2 separate regions of the Homo sapiens genome follow, and region 1 is linked to region 2. Evidence: fine-mapped expression QTL. Tissue or cell type: B cells. Region 2 holds a variant in brackets; the other region holds the start of a gene. All regions are shown on one strand. Distances are between the middles of the regions. Region 1 holds the start of CTSO (cathepsin O). Region 2 overlaps TDO2 (tryptophan 2,3-dioxygenase).

The links. PIP is the estimated chance that this variant, and not a neighbour inherited with it, causes the effect. A credible set is the group of variants that fine-mapping cannot tell apart.
Region 1: it holds the start of CTSO, and the variant in region 2 is the best candidate, but not a certain one, in a credible set for the expression of CTSO in B cells (Fairfax 2012, PIP 0.52).

What each region holds. Positions count from the first base shown.
Region 1 is chr4:155,950,223-155,958,568 of GRCh38, forward strand. CTSO (cathepsin O) reads right to left here and starts at 3,644. Exons shown (of 8, transcript NM_001334.3): 1 at 3,491-3,644. The coding sequence starts at 3,625. RefSeq lists an enhancer at 4,755-5,049.
Region 2 is chr4:155,917,642-155,925,977 of GRCh38, forward strand. TDO2 (tryptophan 2,3-dioxygenase) reads left to right here. Exons shown (of 12, transcript NM_005651.4): 11 at 508-598; 12 at 2,196-2,765. The coding sequence ends at 2,349. It overlaps CTSO (cathepsin O), which reads right to left. Exons shown (of 8, transcript NM_001334.3): 8 at 6,477-8,336. Among named protein-coding and RNA genes, the nearest start is that of TDO2, 18 kb to the left of the region's middle. The variant C/T (reference allele first, on the strand shown) is at 3,639.

The sequences.
Region 1 (8,346 bases), 33 kb after region 2:
GTATAAGTCTTTACATTCTTTTTATTTACAGGAAAATGTTTATTTACAGGATACAATGCTTAAACATAACGATATTCATTTTTTGTGTACATTTCTTACAGGACAGCACGCGTCTTATTCTCCACTGTATCCCTCAGAAAACCCAGACCAGTTCTTTAGACACAGTGGAAATTAAATAAAGTATTGGATAAATGTATGGGAAGATGAATAAATTATAACCTATGATTTTAAGTTTATGATATATTTCCATTTAGTCAATGTATGCTTTAAGTGAGATTCATCAGAAAAAGTCTGCTGAACAACCTTATCTAACATCAAATTCGTGTTTTCATCTTTATATAAGGTAGAACAGGAGTCTCAAAACCCTGGGCCATGGACCAGTACTGTTCTGTGGCCTGTTAACGACCAGGCTGCACAGCAGGTGGTGAGGGGCCTGCGAGCATGCATCACCACCTGATCTCCACCTTCTGTCAGATCGGCAGCAGCATTAGATTATCATAGGAGCACAAACCCTACTGGGAACGGTGCATGTAAGGGATCTAGTTTGCACAGTCCTTATGTGAATCTAATGCTTGATGATCTGGGGTGGAACAGCTTCATTCTGAAATCATCCGCATCCTCCTCACCCCACCCCCACACCCCAGTCCGTGGAAAAATTGTCTTCCATGAAACCAATCCCTGGTGCCAAAAAGTTTGGGGACCACTGAGGTAGAAAATAGGTTTTAAAGCTTTCTTGGATAAAGCCTATTTGGAGGACCTAATTCCAGATTTCAAGGGGCTGATTACGGCAAGCACATATAAGTGGCTCATTAGTTAGGATCACTTGTTATAAAGATGCTATGGCCATCTATTTACACATAAATAAATATTCCTAAATATATAAATAATCTTATAATAATATAACCTGTGTCATTACGGCAACTGGTCTTAAGGTAAAGCTTTGGAAATTTTATGTAAAATCACATGTACTTTGGCATAGATATTATTCTAAAGTGAGTGTATCAAGCAAATTTTATTGGATCCAATATTGGGTCTGTGCCTCCCAAAAGGATAAGAATACCAAATGTTCTGTGGTAAAATAATGAGCATCAGTAAATATGAGGGCATAGCTAGGTTTTGGCACAAAGGAGAGTAGGCTAAATCCAATAGTTAAGAGCTTCCTGAGCACTGGAAGTTTCTAAAGGAGTGAAAGTGCAGAGATAAGGGGTGCCATCCAAAGTCAGGTGTCTTGTGAGGCATCCCATAATAAACCATAGTGGAGTCTAGTTTTCACTGAACAATACTATAATATTTTGTGGGAAAGTCATGGGCTAACCTAACTTTCATTTAACGTGCATTCCTGGGAAACTTACAAAACTATCTAAGGCTAAGATTAAAACAAATTTTAAAACCTTCACCATTCTCTAAACCCATGACCATGAAAGACATTACTAATTAATCAAGGACTTTCTTGAACCAGATCTTCAGCTGCAAACCCCTGAATCATCAATTCACCAATGAATTAACTTGATTTCAACAAGAAGTTTCACGGTTACCAAGGAGGCAAGGCCCTTTCCACCTTTCCCACTGTCCAGCTCTCTATCCCAAGTCCGAACAGCAATCTCCAGCTAACTAATCTAACTAATTCCTGATGATCTTAGATGAAAGACTTTCATCCCAAATCCATCCATCTCCCCCACTTCCCTCCTCCCGTCCATGGAAAAAATGTCTTCCATGAATCCGGTCCCTAGTGCCAAAAGATTGGGGACCACTAAGGTAGAAAATCGGTTTTAAAGCATTCTTGGATAAAGTCCAACTAAGCACCGAGAGGTGTTCAGTTTCCAGCAACTGTGCGTTGAAGCCTCAATGTTCTCTTTTTTGGGTATCCATCTCATGAAGCAAATTCTTACAGGCAGCAATTGCTTTGAAAATTTTTTCAGTATTTCTTAACCCGAGGTTTTTAAAATGTACTAAGAGTCTTCATAATTCGATCCTCCTCCACTTCCAACTTTCCATCTTTCAACCTGTTTCTTTGTATTTCTCCTGAGAAAAGTTACATTTTCTAGACATTCATCAGGGTATGGCCTCTTTACAGGACCAGTATGAGTCACTACATAAATTATACACATATATATTTATAAATTATCTAAAATCTAAATAAATGTTAAAAATATATTTATAAGTCTAGCCCTTTGAGCTTTGTCCTGAAATATTATTTTTAGGAGCCTGACAGTGTGTTTATTTATTTAGCCAATGAATACGTTACCAATAAAGGTGAAACTGACTTTTCCCCTAAGGGGTTTCGTTTACCAGGAAAACGAACGTAAGTTGAGGATAGGGGTAGAATACAGGCCAGAATTTTGTTCTTGAAAGAGTAAGAGGACTTCTGGTTTTGAAAGCTAGAACTGAACTCAAGAATAATAAAGTGGAGATAACAGTACACATCTCGGTTTGGACAAAACGTAAGAGTGGACAGAATCAGGGAAGGCTGGCCTTCCTAAACATTGGAGCTTTCCAGGAGAGTCGGGGGAAAAGAGCACAGCTATGAAATCCTGTGAGAAATTCCAACAAACACCAGGAAAAAAGATACACTTCCTTGAGCAATATTACTCAACTCAGACTTATGTTTGATTCAGAATGAAAGAATTTTCTTTTCCAATAAATTAAATCATGATAATGGCATCTTTCATGAATTTAAAAATGTGTTAAATAGTATCAGCTATCTAGAACATAGTGAGGCGAACACTAAATCGGCATCCCTTGCAGTTTCCTTGGTTTCAGGAAAATCATTATTTGTGCTCAGCTAACTGGTCCCTTCCAGAGTTTTCATGCTAGACTCAAATCTAAGTATTTATTATAAATATTATAAAATATAAATTATATTATATTTCGTATAATAATATGAAAAGGAAATTAAATGCTTCTCTTTTCTTCAACTCAGTCTCCGCCAAGGCAGGAAGAACTTTTAAAGTGGTGCGTTAGTTTAAGGAGAATCATAAACCATCAGGATTCTTTAATCTGGCTAAAGACAGGCTCTTTGTTTCTAACTTCTGATCACTAGCGCCCTCCTCGGGAAAAAAAAACACGACAGGTTTCTTCCACCAACAGGCTGCTCCCTGTTTCTGGTTCTCATAAAAGAGAAATAGAAGAGCTTTGGAAGCCAGTGGCAACGATAGAGGGGATTGCTAAAAGGGGGTGCTTCTTCCCACCAAGGACACTTTGGACGTATCTATGGATTTATTTGGGTGCGTCCCAAAAATCCATAGCGACAAATCTCTTCTGGAAAATCAAGTCTTTTGGTTAGCAAAGGCATGGGGGAGTGACACCATGGCACAAGGAGAGGGGAGAGAGAAGCTGGCTTTTGCACCCGCAGCTCAGGGCCCCAGACGCATCGCAGAGCCACGGGTGCCCACGAGCAGGGTCAGCTCTCGGGGGCCCTCTTCCGCAGCCCAGACCCGGGACAGGAAGTGAGGGAGCAGGGACAGATCCCGGGGAGGCGCGCGCTCGGTACCCGGAAGGCGGCGGCTTCACGCTCGCGGCTCCGCGGCCAGGTCGGGGTGAAGGGGGCGCGGGAGTCCGCATCGCCGCCGCCCCGGCACAGCAGCCACAGCAGCCACGGCAGCCACGGCAGCGCCCGCACGTCCATTGCGGCGCCCGGCTCCTCTGCCGCCCGCGCGGCCTGTTTTCTCTTTCGGTTCCTCGGCTCCTCCCAGCCTGGGCTCGAGGGGCGGAAGGAGCTGGGTTGAGTGCACGATGCTGAGATTGACCCTTTTTTAGGTCCCCGGTGTTCTGTGACTGAAAATCCGGTCAGCTGGAGGCTACGGACCTCCTTGCTGAGGCTAGTTTTTTTGTTTTTGTTTTTGTTTTGGAAGAGTCAGGCACTTGACCATGTGCTTTCGAGGTTTCACTTCCATCCATTAGAAAAAAAGAAGCCTGAGAGTCATTCTTTTGTGTGTGTTGAGATCAGGTCTCACTGCAGCCTCGACCTTCAGGTTCAAGTGCCTCCTGCCTCAGCCTCCGGAGTACCTGGGACTACAGGCGCGTGCCACCACCCCAGGCTATTTTTGTATTTTTAGTAGAGATAGGATCTTGCCATATTGCCCAGGCCGGTCTCGAACTCCTGGACTCTAGTGATCCACCCGCCTTGGCCTCCCAAAATGCTCACAGGTGTGAGCCACCTGGCCTGCCCTGTGAGCCACCGGAAGCTGCCTTTTTCCTTCTTGCCACAATCCCTAAGTTCAAGACCTAGTTCTGAAGTGATGTGGGCCAATACATAGAGTCATCCATTCAGCAGATGTTTATAAATACGTAACAAAATTGTACAGATGTGAAAAGCATACACAGTTTTTGGATCTATTATGGCAGTTTCAAAACTCTTGAAGCCTGTTTCTCCGTTTGCAAAGGAAGATAGAGCCAAGTACATAATTTGCAGGGTTCCGTGTAAACTGAAAATGAAGTTCCCTTGTTCATAAATTGTGAAGAATTTCAAGACGGCAACAGCAGAGCATTAACCCAAGCCATGGGCCTTCTAAGCACCCACTTCTGCACAGGTCACACACTCATGAACCTGGCTCTACCGAGCCTTTCTATTATCATCTATTCTGAACAAGGCTTCCATGTCTGTGAAATTCATATCATTACCCTTGTAGATTTTTAGAACTAACATCAGATTTATGTCTTTAGTTTTTACCTAGGTGCAGTGAGTTACAATATTCTCCAATGCAAACTTCGTAATAAAAATAAAAATAATGTTCCGAGTATTAAGAGGAAAGACACAAGAGTTTTTTATGTACGTTCATGATAAGATATATTGCTCTTGGCAAGTGTGGTGATAAAGATTTTATTTAAATCATAAGTTCACAGAACGATGTTCATGTTTACCTCAGCAGTTCTTTTGTACTTAGCCCTTTTTTGTGACTCATACAAGCACATACTTTTCTTTTTAAACTGAACTTTGCTTTCAGATCATAGTCCCTGTTTATTGACAACCTACGGAGTCAGGAAATTTAAATATAGGCAGTCATCTTTACTTTAGGATAATTGGTATTGTAAAAAAGCCCCTTGAACTAAACTCATTTCAGGAGCTCACATCAAGTATTTATTGAGTACCTGCTAAGTGTCAGGCATTCTTCTAGGTAATGAGGATATATCAAGTAAGTGGATAAGTGACTAAAGGGATGAAAATCCCCATCCCTATGGGACTGATATTTCAATTGATTTACATCAACAAATATTTTATTGAGTACTTCCTAAGTGTCAGGCATTGTTCTAGGTCATCAGGACACATCATGGATGGAAGTGCATAAGTGACTGAAGAGATGAAAAGCCCCACCCTGTTGAAGCTGGTATTTCAGTGAGGGGGAGAGACGCAATAAAATTACTACAGGTTGAGGATCCCTTATCCACAATGCCTGGGTCTGGAAGTGTTTCAGATTTCAGATTTTTTCCCCCCAGATTTTGGAATATTTGCATATACATAATGAGATCTCTTGGGGATGAGACCCAAGTCTAAACACAAAATTCATTTGTGTTTCACTTATGCTACTGACTGAAGGTAATCTTACTGACTATTTTAGGTAATTTTATGCATAAAACAAGGCTTTGAATGCATTTTGACTATGACCCACCACATGAAGTCAGGTGTGAAATTTTCTAGGTGTGGCATGATGTCAGTACTCAATAAGTTTTAGATTTTGGAGTATTTTGGGTGTTTGGATTAGAGATGCTCAACTTGTACATGTGTTAAAGGACAATAAATCCAGATAAGGAGCATCATCAGTGTGAGGGGTGGTACTGCTATTTTAAATAAGCTGTTCAATACTGTCCTCACTGATGAGGAGAGTTTTGAGCAAAGATTTGAAGGAGAAGAAAGTGAGCCACATGGATATTCAGATATCCAGGGAAAGAGAAGCTAAGACAGAAAGAACTGTCAACACAAAGGCCTTGAGATGGAAGTTTGCTTGGCACGTTCCAGAAACATAAAAGACGTCAGCATGGATGGAGTAAAGGAAAAAAAAAAGGATGGGGGAGAGTAGAATATGAGATAAGTAAGAAGCGCACAGATTGTGAAGAATTTTGGGTCAGTTAAAAGGGAGATCAGAATCATCTATTAAGTAGTAAAACAAAGTTTTTGAAAAGTGGCTTGAAAAGTGAAGGTGGCAAGTATCTGCTAATTCTTAGAATAAACACTACAAATTACATGTATATGTAGAGATGTGTTTTTTTCATCAAATTTGCAAAATAGCACATGGAACTTCCCTCAACTCTGTATTAGATATCTATTGCCATGTAAAATATAACCCTCAAACTTAGCATCTTAAAAATACGAATTTTTCTTATCTTAAACAGTTTCTGTGGACCAGGAGGGAGCAGCTTATCTGGGTGGTTCCAGCTCAGAGTGTCTCATGAGGACGCAGACAAGCTGTTGCATATGGCTGCAATCTTCTGAAGGTTTCCCAAGTTTAAAGGATTCAATTTCAAGCTCATGTGGCTGTTAGCAAGAGTCCTCAGCTCCTCTTAGGCCTTTGGACAAAATCCTCAGAACCTTATCAGAAGGCTGGGCTTTTCCTGCCAGCTCTTTGTTCCTGCAGAATGAGTGAATAGAGAAATTGAGACAGTGGACCAGGGAATGACTGAGGTGGGAGCAGCAGTGTCTTTTTATAACCTTATCTTGAAACATATCATCTCTTCTGCCATTGGTTACACAGAGCCAGTCTGGTAAGATGTGGGAGGTGGAGCTGACATAAGGTGGGGTCATCAGGTGCCATCTTGGAGGCCCGCTACCACAGCCTCATGTTGAATGTTATAAGCCCAGTAACAAATGCAGTCATTTCTTTATGTGTGAAAATACTCCAGAGCTAACCATTTTCACAAATACCTCTTAACCTTTATGATACACAAATCAATATTTACTGTTGTTTTTATCCCGTTATGCACCTTCTGGGTTTTCTTCCATTTTTAATCATGCTACTTCATGTTTCAGTGACTTTGCTACGGAATTATTTTGTTTCTTTGTTTTTTTTTTTTTTACCTTTTTTTTGTTTGTTTGTTTGTTTGTTTTGTTTTGTTTTGAGATGGAGTATCTCTCTTGCTCAGGCTGGAGTGCAGTGGTATGATCTCGGCTCACTGCAACCTCTGCCTCCCGGGTTCAAGTGATTCTTCTGCCTCAGCCTCTCAAGTAGCTGGGACTACAGGTGCACACCACCATGCCCAGCTAATTTTTGTATTTTTAGTAGAGATGAGGTTTCATCATGTTGGCCAGGATGGTCTCAATCTCTTGACCTCGTGATCCACCCGCCTCAGCCTCCCAAAGTGCTGGGGTTACAGGTGTGAGCCACTGTGCCCAGCTGGAGATTTCTTAAAAAGCTGAAAGTAAACTACCATTTGATCCAGCAGTCTCACTACTGAGTACCTACCCAAAGGAAAATAAGTCATAATATGAAAAACACACATGCACACACATGTTTATAGCAGCACAATTTGCAATTGCAAAGATATGGAACCAACCTAAATGCCCATCAACCAATGAGTGGATAAAGAAAATGTGGTATATATACACTGTGGAATACTAGTCAGCCATAAAAAGGAACGAAATAATGTCTTTTGTAGCAACTTGGATGGACTGGAGGCCATTATTCTAAGTGAGGTAACTCAGGATTGGAAAACCAAATATTGTATGTTCTCACTTATAAGTGGGAGCTAAGCTATGAGGATGCAAAGCGGAAGAATGATACAGTGGACTTTGGGGACTCGGCGGGAAGGGTGGGAGGGGGGTGAGGGATAAAATACTACACATTGGGTACAGTGTACATTGTTTAGGTGACAGGTGCACCAAAATCTTAGAACTTATCCATGTAACCTGTACTCCAAACACCATTGAAATTAAAATTAAAATTTTAAAAAGTTGAAGCAACAAATAATGTAACAAAATGCCTATTCAAAATGACAAAGTAAACAATAATGGCTTCTTTCTTCTATCAAGTACATTTGAGGTGATGACGGTCCTGAACCATCTCAGGGAACTAAATATTTAATAGATCACTCTCTTAACCCAATAGTTATTGGAAATTTCCAAAGGAAACTTATCAGTATAGATAATTGATAGAAAAACACACAAACAATTCCACAGAGGACAGGGAAGACTGCATCGTTAAGAGAGTAGAATTACATGCCTCACAGGCTATCGGGGTGAGGTACCTGACAGAGAATGTGTGTCTAGCCTTGCACAAGCCAAGCAAAGTGTGGATCTGCAGGGAGAAGTGGCTGGCCCTCAATGAGCTGAGTGCTGGGCATTAGTCAACTGCTGATTCAGCCACAGATGCTAATCAGAACATCCAGAGAAGAAACCGGGCTGTATACTCCCCAAGA
Region 2 (8,336 bases):
AACTTATTCATATACACACTAGGCACAGTACCTAAGGCCCACAATACTTTTGGGGGCTCATGAAAATGTTTTATTTTAAAATCTAAAGGAAAAATTAAACTTTAGGTCATAAAAGTTTTATTACATAAGAGTAATTTATTTGCCATTATGCCAATGCAGTTTTAAATTTTTAATTTTAATAGTTTTTTTATTTTTTTAAATGAAGGACCCCATAAAGGCAAAGGTGGCATGGACTCATGAGTCATATTATGATCCTGGTCTCTTCTATTGTATCCATGGGCTAAATGCAGCGAAGGATGGAGTGAAATGCATGTAGCCTGAAGCAAGTGGAGCGCTAGGCAACCTCACAGTCTCATCTGGCTCTCATGTATGAGCCTTCCATATGGCCAAGTGTTAGTTGTCAACATTTTCTCAGAAGCAATTATCATTACCAACCCCTCATTGTTAGAACATTGTGGAACTAATGGTGGAAAAATATCCATGGAGTAAATTTGTATGTTTGCCTAGATAACCATGTGTGCATGGTGCACAGAATGCTGGGCAGCAAAGCTGGCACCGGTGGTTCCTCAGGCTATCACTACCTGCGATCAACTGTGAGGTAGGTGGGGAAATTCTCCTTTCTTCCTGGTGGCAGTCACCAACAATTTGTTTCTCCACCTATACATTTGCTATCTAAAAAAAGCCATTTTATTTGCTCCTGTCTGAACTACTAACAACACGTTTGTAGTTAGAATATTCCAGTTCAGACTTTTGGTGGTAATTTTATAAAATCTTTAATTATGAACTTTCACTGTTTTGATCCTGTATGAAAAGGGATATGGTATCAATGGCTGCATGATATGTGAGGACACAAAGGGTTTAACAGTGCTTACATCCAGGCAGAAAAGTCTTCAACTCATTGTGACTCAAGTTTTGACCAGACTAAAACATTTATCATTAATTCTACTAATGTCTTCCTGGCTAGATAAATGACACAGTTAAAGTAGCGTCTTGTTTTCTGATATGGCTATTTTATATTATAAAACTATTTCCATCTACTCCAGAGAGTGCCCCTTTTAAAGTGTTTACAAGGAAAGAGATCAACATTTATTGAGGACTTAAAATATGCTAGAGAGGTTTCTAAGGGATGTACATTCTTATTTTGATATTCACAATATCATAGATAAATGGACAAATGGATACATCGGGAAACTGAAAAACTTCTGTGGTCCCTTGAAAAAGAAGAATCAATTCAAGAATAAATTAGACATTTGCATTTAGCCCCACCTCAAATCTTTACAGCACATTGCTTTCGTCCCTACTGTTATTACCAGATTGGTTGGTTTCTGAAATACACAGGTTTAAATTTTCATCATTTTTAGACATTTTCACTGTCCCTGGAAATGAATTCTGTAAGCACAAAACAGTTGATAACTGCCTATACCAAATGAGCACACACATCAGTGGGTGGTGGGAATAATGAACACAAATGGCATCTCTAGTGTGTTGTTATCTCAGTTTTAAAAAGACCTGACCAAAAGGAAGGACTAAAGTTTTCATTTTATAGAGTTAGAAACTGGGGCATTGAAGTTTAAACAACTTGTCAAAGGTCCTTGAATTGTAGGTGATAGAACCAGAATTTGAACCCAGATTTATTTAACTTCAAAGGCAAATGTTCTTCCTCCATAAAACTGCAACAGTTAAAATTGTTGACTAACCACACAAAAGCAATTTTAGTGTTAAAACTACTTCATGGACATTTATTATGAGTCTAAGATGGCATTTCAATTTATTAAACCCTTCAGGGCAGTTATTTGGCATCTTTTCAGTTGGAAATATTTCCAAATGAGCATCTAAGACTGTTTGCTTTAAATGTATTACCTTGCATAGCATCCTTCAGAAGTAGGAAATGAGAACACATCTTTATCTTTATGAAGGTGTCAGCAATAAGACTCTCGGTTTTAATAGGAAACACCCTGTTCTAAAACACATAATACTGTTTTATGGGCATAAACTTTGAAAATGGAATAAAAAGCAGACAATCAATACTAATACTACATAATACCTAATTTAATATATGATATATACAACATGCAATATATATTATAATATTGAATACTAACTATGGAAAATATCTGAGAAATAAATTTTCTAATTGAAAAATTTAAATATTTCATGTCAACCAATGTAACACATCTTCATGTATGTTTTTCCAGTGATAGGTACAAGGTATTTGTAGATTTATTTAATCTTTCAACATACCTGATTCCCCGACACTGGATACCGAAGATGAACCCAACCATTCACAAATTTCTATATACAGCAGAATACTGTGATAGCTCCTACTTCAGCAGTGATGAATCAGATTAAAATCGTCTGCAAAATCTATGAAGAATACTGGTTTCACAGCCTATTTTTTATTTTCTATGGATTTTCATAAATACAGTTTGAATATATGTATGCATATATTGTTCAGCACCACGATGCTCTGATTTAATTCTAGAAACAATTTGATTACCTCTTGTTTGTGACAAGACTAAGCATTAAGATGAGAAAGAATACATTTAAATAGTAACATTGTACATAGGGTGTTTTCCTATTAAAAATTCAGTTTCCCCTGAGACTTAATGTAACCACTTAATGTAATCACTATCTCATTGTTTCATCTTTATAAACTTGTAAACTTCATCTATTTCAAATATTTTATGCAGTACATTATATTATTCTGTACAAAGGCTTTCAAACAAAATTTTTAAAATAATAAAGTATTAATCTTTCTCCCTGTATTGTTTTTGAAATATTGATTGTATTTGTTAGGAATCTTAATGACCAAAGACAGAAATCTATCTGAAGTTTGTCTAGAGGGGATATACTGAAGAATTACTAGCTTGCAGAATTCAAATGAACACTGTCCAAAAAGCCTTGAAAGAGGAGCCTGAAAACTCTGATGCCACAAGGACTGGGTCCAGTTCCTGGAGTGCTATATTCCTGGAACACTCTTCTGAGATCTTTTTTGTCTCATCTCTTCTCTGTAGGTGTTGGCTTTATTCTTTCCTGCAGTAGAACAGCTTCTGTCTCAGGCTGGGTCCCAGTTTCCAGCACCATCAGACTCACACAGGGCAAAGCTTCTCTTTCCCCCAGCTCCCATGCCTGTGGTCTGGGAGGTGGAGTGAACTCTAATGCATGCAGAACTGAGGTAAAAGCAAGGAACAGTCCCCTCAAAGAAGATGTGCTTTCCAGAAGAAAGTACACAGACTGGACAGTGACCCAGTTCATTTCTAATAAGACATTAACTAAGCTAAGAGTTTAGATCAGACATGAGTTTTAGTCTTCTTTTTCTAGCTTGGCCAGGTTATTGGGAAAACTTAAATTTTTGTTATGGGAGGAAGTACATAATATTATTTAAGAAATCTAAAATGTATGTCAACCTTGACCTAGAGTGATTATCACTAGCAAGCAGTAAGTTCTTGATGGAATTGAACTATTCTTTGGTTTCATTTGCAAGTTTTTTCTTATAAGGTCTTATAAGGATTATATCATCTAGTTTGTCTCAGAATTACATATAATTGTTTTTGTCTCCATGACTGTTGTGTGCTCATGTATGTGTGTATACACAGTATCTGATGGTGGCTAGGCTGATATAATACAGAGGCAAATGG[C/T]ATGGTGGCTAAAAGGCACTAGCTTTGAAATCAACAAGCTCGAGGGCAAATTCTGGCTCTGCCATTTATTAACTATCTGGTACTATCACCAGTTGAAGCCTAGTTTCCTATCCATCTGGGGATAAAAGTACTTATTTTATAAGCTTTGCTATTTCCCAGGAGAAACATGTGTTAATAGATATTCTGTCACCAAAGTGCCTTAGAATATTGGTGTAAATGTTATTTGTCAACGTTTATCATTATTTTAATAGACTGTATTAGTCAGGATTCTCCAAAGGGACAAAACTAACAGGATCGATGTATATATGAAGGGGAGTTTATTAAAGAGTATTGACTTACAAAATTACAAGGTGAAGTCCCACAATAGGTCTGCAAGCCAGGAAGCCAGTCCAAGTCCCAACACCTCAAAAGGAGGGAAGCCAATATTGTAGCCTTCAGTCTGTGGCCGAAGGCCCCAGAGCCCATGGCAAATCACTGATATAAGTCCAAGAGTCCAAAAGTTGAAGAACTTGGAGTCTGTTATTCCAGGGCAGGAAGCCTCCAGCATGGGAGAAAGATGGAGGCCAGAAGACTCAGCAGGTCTGTTCTCTCCATGCCTCCTTTCACACTGGCAGCTGATTAGACAGGGCCCACCCAGGCTGAGGGTGGGTCTGCCTCTCCCAGTCCACTGACTCAAATGTTAATCTCCTTTGGAAACACCCTCACAAACACATCCAGGAACAATACTTTGCATCCTTCAATCCAATCAAGTTGGCACTCAATATTAACCATCACAACTTTGTCAACTTGAACCCATCCACATCTCCTGAAATCACACATAATCTTCAACTGAAGCCAATAATAAGGTCATAATTACATCTAACACAATACAGCTATCCTTTGTACAACTGGAAGTGCACCAATCCCCAATCCAAATGCTATTACCTAAAGTTAACAACACTTAAATGCTGATATGAAGTCAACAAATCTTACATCACATGATAAAGGAAAAATAAAGGAAATAAAATGAATATATTTTCTTAGTACAAGTATATATATGTGCAAACATGTTCTCAACAAAATAAAGAGGAAATACTCATGACAATTACAGTCCTCATTTCTGCAACTGGTCACATGGCTGAAGCTGCTATTGATGACTACCTTATTCCACTACCCCCATTCCTTATTCTCTTTGCCTTCAGCAAGCACCTCAGCAGGTTGTGGCTTTGTACCTGCTGGAGTGACCCAAACCTTCATTCCTGAAGTATCTGGGCCATTTGTAGTCCTGCCAGGATTGTGCCGTTGTAGTTTCCCATTGACATTAATCACAGGGCATGGCAATACTAAGAGACACCCTAAGGGTTCTCCTGTGTTCCATGCCTACTCTTCCTTACCTCCATTGTGGAGTAGTAGACTGATTTCGTCTTCATAGTCCAGGTCAATCACCCTGGCCAATACTGTAACTCCCTTCTTAGCCTGTTGCATTAGTCTGCTGTTATGCTGCTAATAAAGACATACCTGAGACTGGGTAAGTCATAAAGGAAAGAGGTTTAATGGACTCACAGTTCCACATGGTTGTGGAGGCTTCACAATCATGGTGGAAAGCAAAGGAGAAGCAAAGTCATGTCTTACATGGTGGCAGGCAAGAGTGCTTGTGCAGGGGAACTCCCATTTATAAAACCATCAGATCTTGTGAGACTTATTCACTACCATGAGAACAGTATGGGAGAAACCACCCTCATGATTCAATTATCTCCACCTGGCCCTGCCCTTGACATGTGGGGATTATTACAATTCAAGGTGAGATTTGGGTTAAGAGACAGCTAAACCATATCATAGCTAAACCATATCATAGACTATATGGTTATATTTAGTTCTTTACACCTATATTTCTTGGTGTGACTAAGCTAGAAGTTGCAAGAGTTTTATCAAAGGATATATCAGTCATTCTTCATGTAAATATCAAAATAATTTAGACTGCAAGTCCCCACCCTCCCCAGTCACACTTGCTTCTAGTGCTGATGACCCACTTTATAACTTTTAAATGGGCTAGAAAATCACTGTAAGGTGGGCTAATTTAGTATTCACTTTGAGATCTTTGTGAAACCACATCCAGAAACACGTTGATGACTTTCATTATGACTTCTAATTATTAGGTGAGGATTTTGTTGCTTTGACTTCAAGTAGTTTGTTATGGCTGGATCACAGCATAAGAGTGATCAAACTATGCAGCACAGCAGCAATCACGGTTGAAAAGGTAGAGAGGGGCTTCTTCGTGAAAACTCACTTAAAAGAGCTCACATGGTATCATAAGGCATTGGGAGCCCTTGAACGGTTGTGAACAGAGAAACTGATAACGTCTTTGAGAAATGTAAATGCAGGGGAAATACAGTAGATGGACTATAAGAACATCAATCTGAATCACCAGACTTTGGGTCTGGACTAAGGGACATAGAGAATAATGAGTAGGCTACTGAATAATGGAGATAAATGACACTAAAGAACATGCAACTAAGAAATGACAGTAGCCACAGGAGGTAGGTAATTCATTGATGGGTTACCAAGGTGCAGATGACCTGCTTAAATGTTTAGGATTTGTCTTAATTTTATTGATTGGGTGATTCCATAATGTTGATTCTGTTAACCAAAATAGAGGCTCTTAGAGGTAAAGGAAATTTTTGTTGGGGGTGGTGGGAGAAGTTAGGGAGGATGACGAATGGAGTTTCGGAAACACTGAGGTTAAAGTGCCTATGGAGAAAACCAAAAGCTGGATATATTAATTTAGAGCTGAGAAAACTGTAAATATAAAGCACATTAATACCGTGTTGACAAAATGTAAGCCATACACTTAAGAAGAGGTTCTTTTTAAACCAAAGTCAAATGTAGGTTGTTTTATTGTAAATGTCATCAAAATCCAGAACAGCAGAAACATATTAATCAGTTTGAAATTTTAGAAATCCTTTAGCACTTGAAAAAGAGTATTACAAATGCATCTATATCACATAGAAAGTCAGCGAATACAAACTAGACAAGCAGGACATAGTTCTTTTCTGGCATTCCAGGATAATAAGAATATTTATCAATTAAAAGGTCAATATCTGTCTTCCTGAAATAACTCCAAACCTGAGTCAACACACATTCTTTTCGGATTGGTTCTGACTGGCGTAAGAAGAGAAATACAGCATTTTGTTTTTTATTTTGTTTATCTAATCACAGGGAAGGATAAACAAAGGGCAAAAGTGAGAGAAAAAGTTAGATGTCCTTGAATTTTTTTTTTTAGTGGTTGCTACTGCATTTCATGTTTCATTTTTGTTAGATCATATACATTAGAAAAGAATGATACATTTTAGAGAAGAAATATGTACATACATAGTATCAGAAATAATTTTCTTGTATTGATTCATTTAATATGGTTGTGCTTATATTCAATCAGAAGGTCAACTCCTTTGCTCTAAGGTTCTTACACTGCTAACAAGAAATGGCTTTTTTCCTGTTGCAGGTCATGAGCAGCACACAGTGTCCTTTCTAGGCACATAGGATCATCGATCACTGTGTGGACGCAGGCTAATCAGAATTGCACCTGAAATCACTTGTGCAATTAGTGATGCAAGAGTGATCACAGGAATCAAGACTGGGAGCCAAGAGAAAGAACAAGAGGTGCACAAAGAAGCAGTTCGGATGGGAGACCAGGAAAGCTGAGGGGAAAACTGGGAAACAGATTCTGGAAAACTCACAGTTTGTTTGATACCCAGGGTTAAGAGATGGGACTTTGATAGGAGTGGTGCTTATGAATTAAGGGAGGAAGAAAGAGGTGAGATCCTAATGTTGGTAAAGGTACAGAGACAAAGGGAGCCAACCAAGTGGTAAGAAAATAGAAATGGAAAGTAAAAATGAGACTTAATTCTTTAGTCAGGGAAGCCAAGCCACCAGGAAAACTTGGTAAAGAGTAAGAGAAAGAGGGAGAAAATATGAGATAATATTTTGGTATTTTGATATACTAGAGAACAAAATATTATTCTATAGTATAAAAAGAACAAAGTAAGCAATATGATCTATTGGATTCCTATTCACAATGAAAATTATCAAACAATAATTTGTCTCTCAGGCAATGCTACTAGAAGTTACTTATATAGTTGCCTTATTGTTCATTTAATTTCAGTTTAACTGAAGCGATTTTGCCCTTTTCCTTCCTTCTACGTGGTCACTCTGCTGTTCAAAGGGTAAGCACCATTTGTTCAGGTAAAGCAATTGGTGTTTGAAATCCTTCCGATAGATACGCCATCTCAGAGGGCTGCTAATATAACTAACTGTACAAGACACACATAATTTTAGGTTGGCCATTCTTGTGTATAGGGGTAATCTAAAGCTAGTAGTTACACCCCACAAAAGAAAATAAATTCTTATGACCTCTTTGATCCCACCTGAAATATCTCACAATAAACAAACAAATAAATAATAAGCAAACAAAAACAAACAGTAGCCTTCCCCAGTTGCAGGGGCCTAAAATATCTCCTAATCTGAATTTCGTCTCAGGACAGGAAACTATTCCATAGGCTTCCTCGCAGGCTTCTGTGCTGGAGTTTGTCCCACTGACTTTGGTTGTCCATCTCTCTACAAGAAGGGAACATTCTGAAACTTAGTTTAAATACTACTAGGCCTTAGAATCTTTTGTAGGTAGTTGCTGAAACTTGAAGTTGAATAATACTTTGAAGTACTATG